Linked DNA regions of Homo sapiens. The protein of the gene in region 1 interacts with the protein of each later gene in a pairwise test. Each region holds a gene or a part of one and is shown on either strand. Other genes may lie near its edges.

Region 1 (3,858 bases):
CTCCACAGGGCCCCAATAACAAAAAAGATGAACACATCAACAACAACAACAACAACAAAGCAAAAACCTAAAAACTTTTGTGTTGGAGTTATTTACTTAGGTCTTCTCCACTTCATAGAGGAAGCGTTGAGCTCCACTGTTGAGCTCCACAACAGTGGAATCTTATTTATCTCCGTCTTCCCAGTTCACTGCTGGTACACAGGAGCTTAGGAAATCAGACTTCCCCCATAGTTCAACTTTGAGTGCTCTGTTCTTCATCCAAACAAAGTGCATGTATAGTGTCTTGAAATGTTCTGTCTTTTCCAATTTCCTCCCATTCTGTTCACTCAAATTGCCTTCCCTACCAAACCTCATCCATGGAAATCCTACTTATTTACTGCTTTACTATTTACTTATTTACTACAAGACACTGCTTTATTCCTAAACTTACTCATGAATTTCCCCTGAATATTTGCTTCACCTTTCCCTCTCCTAAATTACATGTCAGTGTTTCTGAGTTTCTTATTCCAGACTTCCACACTATAGGACTTTTTTTTTTTAGTGTACTTGTCATATCCCCTTTTCAAGGAGAGGTTCTGAGTTCTTATCAATTCATTACCTAGTATATAATGAGTGTTCAACCCCTGGTTAAAGAACAAAATGAGACAGAAAACTGGCAATGCACTTTATTAGAATATGCTCGAAGGTCATTTTAAGGATCAAGAAACCAAAAGGAAGAAGATGTATATCTCATCACCTTAGTTTATTAGACTAGGTTGAGAAGCAAGTGAAAACGAAATTGTATTTGATTTATGTAGACTGTGTCTTCAGGCTTGGGAAATTTTCTATTATTGTAACATAGTCTTGAAGAGTCAGTGCAAGTGTTGCTGGCTTTGGACGAGGTGGCTTTGTAATTTTTTTACATGCTTCCAGTTCCTTGATATTGAGGCAACAGTATCTCCCATTTTCACATAGTGCCTCAGGCACTTCATTTACTCTGCAGATTTTCCTGCAATGTCCTTGTACATAGTTATTCCAGCACTTCTTAAGTTGTTCGGTTACTATACACAGAAAGGAGCAATAGAACAATATCAGTGTTTGAGACTGAAGGCACGTTGGTTTTGGGGAAGACAGAGGAGGCTTGTAGGAATTAGGGGTATGGGGTATCCACAAGGCAGACCCTCATATATTCTGAAGAGGATTTTCCGACAAGGTCAACCTCAGTGTTTGTATTTAACTGGATCACTTATATTTAGGTCCTGTGAGGTTTTAGGCCTCCCTTAACATCTGATAGACTCTGCCAAGAACATAAGATCTTATCTGAGAAAATAAAGGAGCTGAACCCTTGATTCTAGGCTATGGAACTATGCTCTACATAGGAACCTCAGCAAATCTGCCTGCATCCTGAATGCTCCCAGAGCACTACCTTCTACTGCACCTCCTCTGATGCCCAGAGAACAATGTATTGTTACTATGTGTTTATGTCTGAATCAAACTGTTCTCCTGAGTTCAAACCCACTATCAGGGTCAAGAATGACTTTCATGTTATCCAGTAAGGTAGTAGTCTATTGGGTCTTAGGAATGTAGAGGGTCAGGAATAGGCCATTACTATTCTTATAATAAGGGACACATGTAAGAAATCTGGTTTTGAAAGAGGAAAGGAAACTCTAATTTTTGAGTTCTCAGTATGTGCCAAGCTTCACATAGGTTATATCATTTAATAAAACCCCTGTTAACCAGGTGTCATTATCTCCATAGATGAGGAAACTGAGGCTCCTAGAGTCTTCACTACTTAAAGTTGACAAACTAGTAGATATTGAAGGCATGTTTCTTAAACCTAACTCCAAAATTTGCTTCTTCCTCTATTCATGCACACACACACACACACACACACACACACACATATATATATTTGAGTAAAAGGAAATATAGCTGAGCATCAGAGTAAAAACCATATCCAAAGACATAAAGGTATCCCTAGATATTGGCATCATTCCTTTCTATAACAACACATCTTTCCCAGAAGAAATTATGACCTCTTTTTAGCTCAGTGAGTACTCCTCTTTAAGGATAGTAACATGGAATAAGGCTCCAGAAAGAGGAAATTTCTGATGATGTTGGATAAACTTTAGCCATCTTTGGGGGCTCTATTTCCCTTTAGTGTGGATTATGAAGTTCCCTTTGGCTCCTGAAAATGCTCCATCCCACTGTTGATTTGAGTGAGCTTCTGGTTTGGTTTACCTGTGGGTTTCTGGAACAGCAGAATTGCAATGATCATGAAGAGCCCCATGGCCAGGCTTTCCAGAAGAGGTGCAGCCAAAGCTTTTGGTCCAGTGAACTGCACACTATGCTACCTTCCTCAGAGACTTAGATTCTTATGCACTGAACCAGAACAGATGGGATGATATGAAGTGTGTCCTTAAGCTTCTGAACTGTGAGCTTTGCATCATGCAGGCAGACACAGGAAATTTCAGGCCACCCACTTTACCCCCACATGGAATAGAGATACAGCATGTTCCATCCCATCGCACCAAATGCCGCTGTGTAGGCTGTAGACTGCTGGGAAGAATCTGTGATTTTCCTGCTTTGACTCTCTGCGCAGCCGGACCAAGATCGAAATGTACTCACCTCCAAGAATGAATGTGGCAGTATAAACCAGGACATAAATCTGAAACTCTAACAATAAGAATTTCTAGTAGGTTTCTTGCACATTTCGAAAGAAGGTATGATGTAGTTGGGTCTGATCTGAGGTCACCTGATTTTTTATAAAAGCACCAAGAACATACACTGGGGAAAGGATACCCTCTTCAATAAATCATGCTGGAGAAACTGGATTTCCATGTGCAGAAGAATATATATTATGTATATATATATGTACACACATATATACATATATATGCACACAATGGAATACTATACATACATAACACACAATGGAATATATATATATATATATACACACACACACACAATGGAATACTATTCACCCATAAAAATAATGAAATTCTGTCCTTTGCAACAACATGGATAGCCTGGAGGACATTATGTTATGTGAAATGTCAGGCACAGAAAGATTACCACATGTTCCTATTTATATATGGGAGCTAAAAAAGTTGAGCACATGGAAGTAGAGAGTAGTGTTGCAGATATTAATATTAGAGGCTGGTAATGATTAGGGAGAGGGGAGGATGGAGAGAGATTGGCTAATGGATGCAAAATTATAGATAGGAGGAATGACTTCTGGTGTTGTAGCACTGTAAGGTGAATATGGTTAACTACAATTTATTGTATACTTTTAAAAGGCTAGAAGAGAGGATTTTGAATGTTCCCAATACAAATGATAAATGTTTGAGGTGACGGATATGCTAATTACCCTGGTTTGATCATTACACATTATATGCATGTATTGAAATATCACTTTGTATCCTATAAATAAGTACAATTATGTGTCAACTAAAAATAAAAGGAAAAATGGCTAAAATGGCCAATGTTATGTCATATATTTTACCACAATTAGAAGAAAAAGATGCATGAGGGTATTTTTTTTCTACCAGTTGTACCTTGTCTTTGAAAATATTAAAATGTTGCCACAAGGAATCGATGTTTACCTAGATCATTCTTTGATCATTGATTGCAGTTTTCAAAAAATTTCAACCCTGTTAACCACTGAGATGCATTAAATAAATAAGCCAGTTGGCTTAGAGATGAGCCCTATGGCCATTATTCAGGTCACGTAGTGGTTTTACACAAGAATATGTTTAAACAGAGAGATGTTGACATATAAGAAATCCTTTTTAGAGGCAAATGTAAATTTAAGAGCAGTTACCTCAGAGGTCTCAAGGGTCACCTCCCTTTACTTTTGCCACCAGCTTTTACATG
Region 2 (3,780 bases), on another chromosome or scaffold:
TGGCTCTCATGGTGCCAGCAAAGATCAGAGTAAATTAAACACAAAAAACACCTATTTTGAATTAAGACTTCAAAATAGGTCACAACAGCTATGATTCACATTAGTGGCTCAATACTGACAGAGCATATTCTAGTCCCAGTCCTGCCACTAAGAAACTGTAACTCTTGTGATATCTTAATAGCTCATTAGATTTAACATACAGATAAGAACCTAGTATCTGCCCTTTGTATGTAACAGGGTTATTGTGGGACACATAAAAAACTCATGTGTACATTCTGTGAAAAATATATTTTATAGCTCTAACTATCCCTCTGATTACAAGGAGGGGGAAGTATAAAAAGAATAATTATTAATTAATTTTTTGAGCAGAATATTTTATACACTTTTGAAAACCTCATTCCTAAGCATAGCTTTCATTGAGTAATTTTTTTTTGAGACAGTGTCTCACTCTGTTGTCCAGGCTGGAGTGCAGTAGCATGATCATAACTCACTGCAACCTCGAACTCCTGGGTTCAAGCAGTCCTCCTGCCTCAGCCTTCTGAGTAGTTGAGACTATAAGTGTGTGCCACCACCCCTGGCTAATATTTTTTTATTGTTAGTAGAGACAAAGTCTCACTATGTTGTCCAGGCTGATCTTGAACTCCTGGGCTCAAGTGATCCTCCTGCCTTAGACTCCCAAAGTGCTATTGCTAGGATTATAAGCATGAGCCACCATGCCTGGCCAAGTGATATTTTTAAATGATATAATAAAAAGAAAAACCTAATAGAAAATATTAAACATGAAACTGTTGCTAAGACAGAAATTTATGTAAAATATATAAATGAGAAAAAAGAATAAAATTGTAGGTATAAAATGTAAAAATCAATTCTAAAATGAAACCTATACCTGAAATTATGAAGAAAATTTAATTGTCTATTGAAAATATGTTAAAAATAAGTAATCAGGAATTCAATGTAATAATTAAACTGGATTTGCTCATATACTCTTGTTCTTCTTACACTCAAAGCACTTCTGAATGGAAATTATTTAGTAACAAGGACAAAGATGGATTTCATGAACTATCTTTGAAACAACTTTAAGTGATGTAATTTGGAGTTTAGTTTAAAATTCCACAGACTGATTTTCCAGTAATTTGCCACTAAATTATAAACTTTTTAATGTTTCTTTCAAGAATTTTTCCTTTAAAAACAACCAAAACCTTAAAGATATATAATAACAACCAGTTATAAAGATACTATAACTGGAATTTATGTTTTTGGAAAGAGAGTTTTTCAGAATATGTATGGTTTCTAATTTGATTTTGTATATTATTTACATAGTATAATGAATAGAAAGGTTACTTCAAATGGCTTTAGTTTTTTGCACTTTATATAATAGCTACTTGGAAACCAAGGAATCACAGTAAGCATAATCATTTAAGTTATCTAAAACATCTTACCCTTCTCAAAGCTTGCATTAGCACCTCTGTCCAAAAGGACCCGAACCAGCTCTGCATTGGCAACACTAGCAGCATACATAAGGGGAGTCCATCCATACTGAAAGTTGGAATCTACACTAATGCCTGTCAATATAAAAACAAGCTTTTAAAAGCACACTACCACCAAAGAAAAAAATCAGTCACCTTATATGCTTAAAGTACTGTGTAAAGTGACGTACATCATGTACTTTATTCCACCATGGGAAGTTTTTAATGGCTTCCAAAAAATACAAAATAGTTATATTGGGACATTAACACAATTTGCTAACTTCAGTTTCACTACAGGCACTATGTTCCGAGACTGATATGACTGATGTTTTATCATATATGTAACTGAGTATGTATATTATAACAGGTTTTTACATGCTACCTTTTTTTTCTCTAGGGGAGCTGGAAAGGTTTCACAGAGGTAAAATGTCTTTTAAATTAGAATATTATCCCTGGGCAATATCAGTTATCTCTATGGTTGAAAATACCACATATATCCCTCAAAAACCTTTAACTTTATTCCTAACACTAAACTTACCCATGGGTGACTGATAAAACATGAAGCTAAAAAGACAGGTTAAGGTTAGATTATGAAAACTCCCTTAAGAAACGCAGACTCTGTTTTGTGATCCAGGAACTGACATCATTACATATGTATTATAAAGACAACATAGACACCACTATTGAGAATGGGACAGGAGGCAAGGAAACTAGTTATAACACAGGAAGTTTATACGACAATCAGAGCAAGGGCAGTGGAGAGAGAAAGGAAGGAAAACAAAAGGACATTTCAAAGGCAGGGTCATCAGAATTTAAAATTACTTTGAGGAGGAGGTATGATGGACAACAACAAATTAAAAATGACTATCAAATTCTGTCTTGGACAATCGAATGACAAGCAGTGAGCTAAAATAAAGGGAGATATCAGGTATTGAAAGTAAGTTTTTTTTGTTTGTTTGTATTTTGTTGTTTTTTTTTAGGATCTCACTCTGTCACTTTTTTGGCTGTATAAACACCGGGTCACTGAAAGACTACATATGTCTAATTTCTAACTGTCTAATTTTAATTGATATAAGGTACATAATAATCACTGGGAGAAAACATTAAACCATCTTAGTATAGACATCTACTGCTAGCCCTACTTGTCTTCTCTAACAAATCTTCCTCTTTGAACTGCTTTGATTGAAAGCTTATCAATGAGATCAGAGAAAAGATCATTGTTTTCTCAATTTATTGAGAATACTGCTCAAACTGTGATAGCAAAGATAGAAAGGAAAAGATGCAAAGAAAAAGAAGCAAAGGCCAGGCACGGTGGCTCATGCCTGTAATCCCAGCACTTTGGGATGCCGAAGTGGGTGGATCACGAGGTCAGGTGATTGAGACCATCTTGGCTAGCACAGTGAAACCCTGTTTCTACTAAAAATACAAAAAAAAAAAAAAAAAAAAAAATTAGCCAGGCGTGGTGGTGGGTGCCTGTAGTCTCAGCTACTTGGGAGGCCAAGGCAGGAGAATTGCGTGAACACACGAGGCAGAGCTTGCAGTGAGCCAAGATCATGCCACTGCACTCCAGCCTGGGCGACAGAGTGAGACTCCATCTCAAAAAAAAAAAAAAGCAAATGTGGCATTTTAGTATAAAAATTCTTACTAAAATTCTAACTTAATATTTAACCTCTAATATTTAACATAAATTACTAAGCACATATTATGTTCCAGGCATAGTGCAAAAAAAGGTAAGTTTCAAAAGGATGAACACAGTATATTTATAGAGCTCAAAAACATTCAAAATAATACTATATTGTTTAGGGACATAGTAAAAGTATAAAGATACTCATAAGAATGATAAACATCAACTATAGAAAAGTAGTTATCTCCAGAGGGGGTACCGTACTTTTCTGAATGTCTAAAATATGTCATACTTTAAAGAAAATTGAAAATGATAGTACACAGAATAACAAAAACTGGAGACATCTTCAAATGGTTAAAAGTGGCTGACTCAAAATGTGCTTTTATTTTTAGAGTTTCCAATTGGTGCAGAAGCATGTTTCAAGAACAATAATGACTTTGAAAGGCAAAAAATTAACAATATTTTTAAAAAGAGTTACATAATGACATCTGGAAGGAAATACCCTAAAACAGGAGTTAACCTGTGAAAGTGAGGCATCAGCAGTAAGGGGAATGACAGTGAGGACAATGGTAAAGAAATCTTTCTCCTTCTACCTATATCTCTATTACTGCCTTTTAAAAATGAACTTTAAAAATTTTTGTAACTAAAAACAAATTTCAAATGGTTGACTAAATACTTAGCAGTAGGCTC
Region 3 (3,714 bases), on another chromosome or scaffold:
CAGGAATTCAACACTGAAGGCATTGAAGTGGTCTACTGGCCTCCAAATACAATGTTTCTAATTCAGCTTTGAGATAAGGGGGCCATAAGGATGCTTAGGCTTATTACACCCAGTACGCTATGGAAAGGTTTATTCAACACTATGGAAGAGATCCCAATAGAGAGAACGTCATGAAAGTCTAGAAGGAATATACCATTGAAGATGCTGCTATTTTATTGAAAAAGACTTGAGAGCCATCAAGTGCAAAACAGTAAGTTCTGCTGGAGGAAACTGTTTCAAGATGTTGCACATGACTTCACAGGATTTACAATAGAGCCAATCAAGGAAATCATGAAAGAAACTGTGGATATTGCAAAAAAAAAAAATCGGTAATAAAAGATGTCAAGATGAGGATCTTGGAGTAATTCAAGAGCTAACTGACATTACAATGGAACAATGAACAGAAAATGACTTGATGGAGATGAGTGCTTCTGAACCAGTGCCACATGATAAGGAAGAAGATGTAGAAGAAGCTGTACCAGAAAACAAATTGGCAGTAGTCAATGTGGCAGAAGAATTCCAATTATTCAAGACTGCTTTCAACTTCTTTTATGACATGGACCTTTCTATGATATGGACACTAAAACTAAAGCAAGCTGTGGAAGAAGAATTGGTACCAATAGAAACAGTTTTAGAGAAATCAAAAGGCAAAAATCTCAGATGTGTTTCTGTAAAGTTACACCAAGTGTGCCTGCCTCCCCTTCCACCTGCTTCAACTCTTCTGCCTCTACCACCCCTGAGACAGCAAGATCGGCCCCTCCTTCCTCCTTCTCTTCAGCCTACTCAACGTGAAGACAAGGATGAAGACCTTTATGAGATCTACTTTCACTTAATGAACAGTAAATATATTTTCTCTTCCTTATGATTTTCTTAGTAACATTTTCTTTTCTTTAGCATGCTTTGTTGTAAGAATAGAGTATATAATACATATAACATACAAAATACATGTTAATTGACTGTTCATGATATTAGTAAGTCTTCCAGTTAACAGCAGGTTATTAGTAGTTAAGTTTTTGGGGAGTCCAAAAATTACACGTGGATTTTTGACTGTGTAGTTGGTGCCCCTAGCCCCCATGTTATTCAAGAGCCAACAACAGTTATTCATTTCTATGGTTCCTATAAATACAGTTATTTGTTCCTATTTCTAACCTTCAGAAATGAGGATTACTAAAGCTACAAGCTACTAGGTATAATCTATAAAACAATCAATGCTTTGGAAATTTATAATACGGTAACAAAAATTATCCATACTAAAGACAAGATTTCCAATAAACACTACAATGGGGCAAGTTTGCCCATTTACTCTCTTATTGCCTAACTAGTTTATTATAATATAAAACTATATTTTGACATACAAATTTTTATAGATTTTAATTCTAATTATACAACTTTACTACTACTTAATTTAAATCCTGCCTTCCAAAAATATTTCTGCTAGTAAGAGCCATCGTAATGAAAAGCATTTGATCAAACCAAATTAAAAAAAAAAACAAAATGTGCATATTTTACAAACTTAATAAATCTTCCTTTATAATCATCAATAACATTTAGAACTTCATTGGAAAAACATCTGAAAATGAATAATGCTCTTTTTCATCTTATCTGAATCTTTAGTCAGCAGTCTGTAATAGTTCTCTAAATGATTAGTATAAGATAATGAGGTTCTAATATATTTTTACTTTGAAAGTAAATTTAATCCTTTAAAAAATATACTGAAGGTTATTAAAAAAAAACATGTAACACTTAGAATTCTTTTGTACAGCCCTTGTCCTTTTAACGCTTGAAACCCATGATAATACTGATAATGAATTTGTAGACTATGAAAAAAAGTCAATCTGTAAAATCAAAATTGCAGTTTCATAAACTAGGAGAACACAAAATTACTAGAACCTAATCCAAATTCTATCACTAAATAGCCTTTTGAACTTGACTATATATGAGACCCTGAGGAATATCTAAAAGATTTTTTTCAAATAGAAAATTACCTACCACATAAAGAGTCTCTTAAGATATGGTTTCAGAAAGGCGTTTTGAGACTCGTAATTAACCTCAAAACATATGCAAATTAGCATAACTATTATGATCTAGCAATCATATTACATTGTGCCCAACATTTCCTTGAACCTGTTTATATTTATAAGACTGTATGACCAGCTCTCTCATTTAGAGTATTTCATTCCTTGAGTGGGAATTTCCTCAGAATTCTATTCTGGATGTTTTCATGCTGTTCAGGGGCTACTGTAGGAACCACCACTCCCCACTCCCTCCCTGGCATGACTCAACCACGACCAAATGTAATATTGAAGAAGGCATTCTTATTTATATGCCCAATTGGAATTATTTTTAACTTATCAAGAATTAAGCCAATTCTCTTCCAGCCTTAAGCATGGTCTTCCAGCCTTAAGCGAGGTCTTGAATTCCAGACCTCAAGTGATCCGCCCACCTTGGCCTCCCAAAGTGTTGGGATCACAGGCATGAGCCACCATGCTGGGCCTTCATAGGCTCTTATTTGATTAACTTATATCTTTAAAAAAATAACTTTAACTCAATTGCCACCTACTCAGTGAAATCCATGTTGCTATCCCTCAGTTGCTCTTTCTCAGGAATTCCACAGCAGTCTGAAAAAAGTGGAGAATCAATATGGTATGAGAAAAGTAGCTAAGGATTCCTACTCTCTGGAGAGGTGATATAGAAGTTGTAGAAGGTAGACTGGTTGACTCAAAAAAAATGCCGCAGGCCTTGTGCAGTGGCTCACGCCTGTAATCCCTGCACTTTGGGAGGCCCGGGTGAGTGAATCACCTGCAGTCAGGAGTTCGAGACCAGCCTGGCCAACATGGTGAAACCCCGCCTCTACTAAAAATACAGAAAATTAGCCTGGCATGGTGGCAGGCACCTGTAATCCCAGCTACTTGGGAGGCTGAAGCAGAAGAATCGCTTGAACCCGGGAGGCAGAGGTTGCAGTGAGCTGAGATCACGCCATTGTAGTCCAGCCTGGGCAACGAGAGCCAAAATCTATCTCAAAACAAACAAACAAACAACAAAAACAAACAAACAAACAAACTCTGCAACAGAACCAGGAGTACACGGTATAATCTTAGTGGGTCTGTTAACAGGACGCTCTTTTGGCAAGAATGGCAGGGATAGAGGCTGTGCTCCAAAACCAAGCAGGACAAGCTATCCCTCAGCTGTGGCCAGCAAAGATAGAAGACTGCAAGTGTGATGGTTAATACTGAGTGTCAACTTGATTGGACTGAAGGATACAAAGTATTGATCCTGGGTATGTCTGTAAGGGTGCTACCAAAGGAGATTAACATTTGAGTCAGTGGACTCAGAGCGGCAGATCCACTCTTAATCTGGGGTGGCACAATCTAATCAGCGCCAGCATGGCTAGAATATACGCGGCAGAAAAATGTGAGAGACTGGCCTAGCCTCCCAGCCTACATCTTTCTCCTGTGCTGGATGCTTCCTGTCGTCGAATATCGGACTCCAAGTTCTTCAGTTTTGGAACTCGGACCTGCTTTCCTTGCTCCTCAGCCTGCACATGGCTTATTGTGGGACCTTGTGATCGTGTGAGTTAATACTTAGTAAATTCCCATACATATATATTCCATTAGTTTTGTCCCTCTAGAGAACCCTAATACAGCAAGTATGACCTTTCCTATGAACGGTACTATA
Region 4 (3,780 bases), on another chromosome or scaffold:
TGCTCTGACTGTAAATGCATTCAGGCTTTTAATCCACCAACATTTTAAGATCTTAAAAAATTGTTGTGCAGAAAATGAAGGGCCAGCATCAACTATCAACATTCATTCTTTAGCCATGCCTTTATTGGTGTGTCTGTGTTTATATGGTACCACCCTATATAATATTTGTAATGCCTACTTTGTTGAAATTGTTTTGGGAGAGAGGCAAAAGTCTCTTTAGTAAATATAAAAAATAAATAGGAAAGAATCTAGTACATTAAAATTTCTTTAAAATAGAGGAACTTAAAAAAATTATTGTAAGTGACATCAGGTACAAATTGAAGGGAGGCTCATTGTGTGTTCTCTACTACCATTTTGAAGGTTTGTTTTTGAACTAATAGTACTTTAAACTTCAAATATGGCTAGGGTTATCTTTTTTTTTAAATCTGTTTCTCTGTCCTCAAGCTTTTCTTTCCATGAGAAAAAATGACACAAAATAAGGGTCCATAAGGCTTTTGCTACTACTTAAATTTTAGTTTAGAGTCCATTACATGTTTCAGTTACAGATACTTGGTTTAGCACCAAAGATAGACTGTCTCTCCCCACCCTTCCCACCACCACCATCCCACTCATTCCCCTCACCCCCTGTGAGTGGAATGAGACCAACAGCCATTATAGCCTTAAAGAAATGACAAAGCATTTTCAAACTTGCGATGTCCATTGACAATGTTTTGGTGCATTGCAGTAGAACAGAGCTCTTATCCAGGCTCCAGTAAGCACTTTCACCTGCTGGTAGAAAAATGTCTCTTCTTTTAATATTTTACTGCTAATGGCATTGTCACATCACCAAAAATATATGTAGAAAAATGTTATATTTCCCTACCTGTGTACTTTATGCTATATTAAAAACATCTCGTGACTCTAAATTCAAAATGTATCCAGGTTTTCCAACAACTCTGATTAACATTTAGCAATTACTTTGGACTCATTCTCCAAACATATTATTAGTTCTCATGCAGTATTACATTCATTAATGTATATTTTCAGATATCAAAATCAGTAGCCTCTTCCACAATTTCATATCTTTAATTTCTCCTGTCTTAAAAGTAAGTTTTAATGAAATGATTTCTTCTATGCTATAGCCTAAAAAGTTATCCAGTAATGTTTAATTATATTTACTTATCTTAAATGTATTTAAAAATAGCTATTCACATCAAGCTTTTAAAAAGTTTTGATGATGTTTGTATAGAAAAAAAATGACTGAATGGTTTTAGAAAGTTTGCTCTATTACATAAAGTGATGTTGCCAGAGTCTGATTTGTTTCACAATTGCTCAGGATCACCATTCAGGAGGGACTTTAATTTTTTCTTAGAAACATAAAAGCAACCTTATTAGAAAATAGGTTAAAAGATTGCTACATTTGAAATGATCTTAAAAAATTTAGGCTTAAGTCCTCAGTAATGTACATTTCCTAGTTCATTAATGCAGAAATACTGCACATAGATTTTAATCTTGGAGTTAATAATAAAAGCAATTTTCACTAAAAATATAAAAACTGTAATGGTAGAATCATGATATTGCATTTAGCTCTCCCACAAAAAGTCACTTTATTACTTTCTTTTGACACTTATTTTCATTCTGGGATTAATTTTACTATATAAGGGCTTCTTAACTATTCTATTAAAATTTCTATTCAGAAGCAATAATATCTAAGAGTGAATAATAGTCATGTAAATCATTATTTCATATTAATGTAAAAGATTTTGTAAGTTCTTATGAATTCTGCTGACATGCACAATTGTGAAAAGGTTATCTCTCCATTCTACAGTGATATGCGCTGGAACAAAGGAACCATTCTAAAAGCATCAGTGGAGTACATCAAGTGGCTACAAAAAGAACAACAGAGAGCCCGAGAATTGGAACACAGACAGAAGAAATTAGAGCAGGCTAACAGGCGACTTCTACTTCGGATTCAGGTTTTTATAAGAATGTAGCCATGAGTCACATAGCTTACACATGACTCAGCTGTCATCAGTTTTCTTCATTGGTCTCATTTATTTTTTCTCTTATTAACAATTATTTTTCCTTTTGAAGGATAATTTTACTGCTTTTTAGAAGTTCGTGAATTGGGTTGTTTCAATTAGGATTTGACTAGAAATCCAGGATCAAGATGGCTGAATATGTATATATGTATATATGTATATACACATATATGTGTATATATGTGTGTATGTGTGCATGTATATATATATACACATATATAATGACAACAAATTACAAAATGCATAAAATATAACTCATTTCATAAATGCACACATTATTATCCTAATCAAATAATAATACTAAGTAAAACATTTGTTTCTCTACATTATATTGGACATTAAATTCTCCCCTCCTTCTTTCATTTCTTTCCAACATTGCTATGGATTTCATTGCCTCAAGGCATGTTGTGACAGTGTATATTAAGTCACTTCTCATCTGTTCATATAATCCAAAATATCAAAATATGGGCTTTTATAACTCTCAAGATTTTTTAAAAATGTGAGTATGCTTAGCACCAGGTAAAACATTTACTGTTTCCATGAAAAGGTCCTGCATTTACAGTGAGAAATTAATCAGGAAGAATAAATAGATGACTTTCTGCTATCTCCAAATGGCTATATTGTAGTCTGAGCCACTATGGAACCATCATCAGTCATAACCTTTGTAGAACAATGAGACCAAACTTAAAAAAAAGTCTGAGTAATTTTCTCAGAGTTATTTTTCATGCATCAGAAATGTATCAATTTCATTATTTGCAAAGATTATTCATAATTTGTATTGTATTACTCTTCATTTTAAATGCTTGTTAATATTTTGATTCTATGTCTGGCTTATTCTCTAGTGTTAAATCCAATTTCAAAGACATTATTTAATGATTTTCGTTTGAAATTACAGGAACTAGAAATTCAGGCTCGTACTCATGGTCTGCCAACCCTGGCTTCACTTGGCACGGTTGATTTAGGTGCTCATGTCACCAAACAGCAGAGCCATCCTGAGCAGAATTCAGTAGACTATTGCCAACAACTGACTGTGTCTCAGGGGCCAAGCCCTGAGCTCTGTGATCAAGCTATAGCCTTTTCTGATCCTTTGTCATACTTCACAGATTTATCATTTAGTGCTGCATTGAAAGAGGAACAAAGATTGGATGGCATGCTATTGGATGACACAATCTCTCCATTTGGAACAGATCCTCTGCTATCTGCCACTTCCCCTGCAGTTTCCAAAGAAAGCAGTAGGAGAAGTAGCTTTAGCTCAGATGATGGTGATGAATTATAAGAAATAAACAGACCCAATTCATCAACTGGAAAGCAATTCTATGCTGGTGCTATGCAATTATGCTCTGTGTTTCATATGTTGCTTTGGCTTATTTTTTTTCTTAAAGGAATGTGTTGTTCATGAAAAACTGATAGAAGCAACAGAAGAATTCGCAGGAAGAAAAATCATAGTGTTAATGAATTATTGAGGGCGAAAAAAAGGTGTTTTCTTCTTTGACTACGGAGTCCAAATCCACTTAAATTCTGTTTTCCTGAAAAGAGGTACAGCATAAGAAATAGCTCTTTATTGATGTTTTAAAAGCAGCAACTTGGTGGTGTACTACTGGAACTAATGACTGCAAAGTGTTAAACGACTGAAATATACAAACAGTCTCTTAGTTACTCATTTCCATCTTCTCTTCAACTTTCACATCAGTCTTCCGGAATCAAGATCAACATATCAGGTGGTCATTGCCTTTCTCCATTGTCTAGTAGACATGTCTAA

What was found. The genes of interacting proteins can lie anywhere in the genome.
Region 2: the proteins of DEFB127 (region 1) and ASZ1 interact in binary tests that used the Homo sapiens proteins (3 or more experiments, as listed by UniProt).
Region 3: the proteins of DEFB127 (region 1) and FAM174A interact in binary tests that used the Homo sapiens proteins (3 or more experiments, as listed by UniProt).
Region 4: the proteins of DEFB127 (region 1) and TFEC interact in binary tests that used the Homo sapiens proteins (3 or more experiments, as listed by UniProt).

What each region holds. Positions count from the first base shown.
Region 1 is NC_000020.11:155,956-159,813, reverse strand, and holds DEFB127 (beta-defensin 127 preproprotein), read right to left. Parts: upstream 2,361-3,858; 5' UTR 2,270-2,360; coding exon 2,221-2,269; intron 1,041-2,220; coding exon 790-1,040; 3' UTR 651-789; downstream 1-650. UniProt on the Homo sapiens protein: Has antibacterial activity.
Region 2 is NC_000007.14:117,420,798-117,424,577, forward strand, and holds part of ASZ1 (ankyrin repeat, SAM and basic leucine zipper domain-containing protein 1), read right to left. Parts: intron 1,563-3,780; coding exon 1,440-1,562; intron 1-1,439. UniProt on the Homo sapiens protein: Plays a central role during spermatogenesis by repressing transposable elements and preventing their mobilization, which is essential for the germline integrity.
Region 3 is NC_000005.10:100,580,290-100,584,003, reverse strand, and holds part of FAM174A (membrane protein FAM174A precursor), read right to left. Parts: intron 2,658-3,714; coding exon of another isoform or gene 2,639-2,657; exon of another isoform or gene 2,600-2,638; intron 1-2,599.
Region 4 is NC_000007.14:115,940,068-115,943,847, reverse strand, and holds part of TFEC (transcription factor EC), read left to right. Parts: intron 1-1,807; coding exon 1,808-1,955; coding exon of another isoform or gene 1,956-1,973; exon of another isoform or gene 1,974-2,916; coding exon 2,917-3,297; 3' UTR 3,298-3,780. UniProt on the Homo sapiens protein: Transcriptional regulator that acts as a repressor or an activator. Acts as a transcriptional repressor on minimal promoter containing element F (that includes an E-box sequence). Binds to element F in an E-box sequence-specific manner.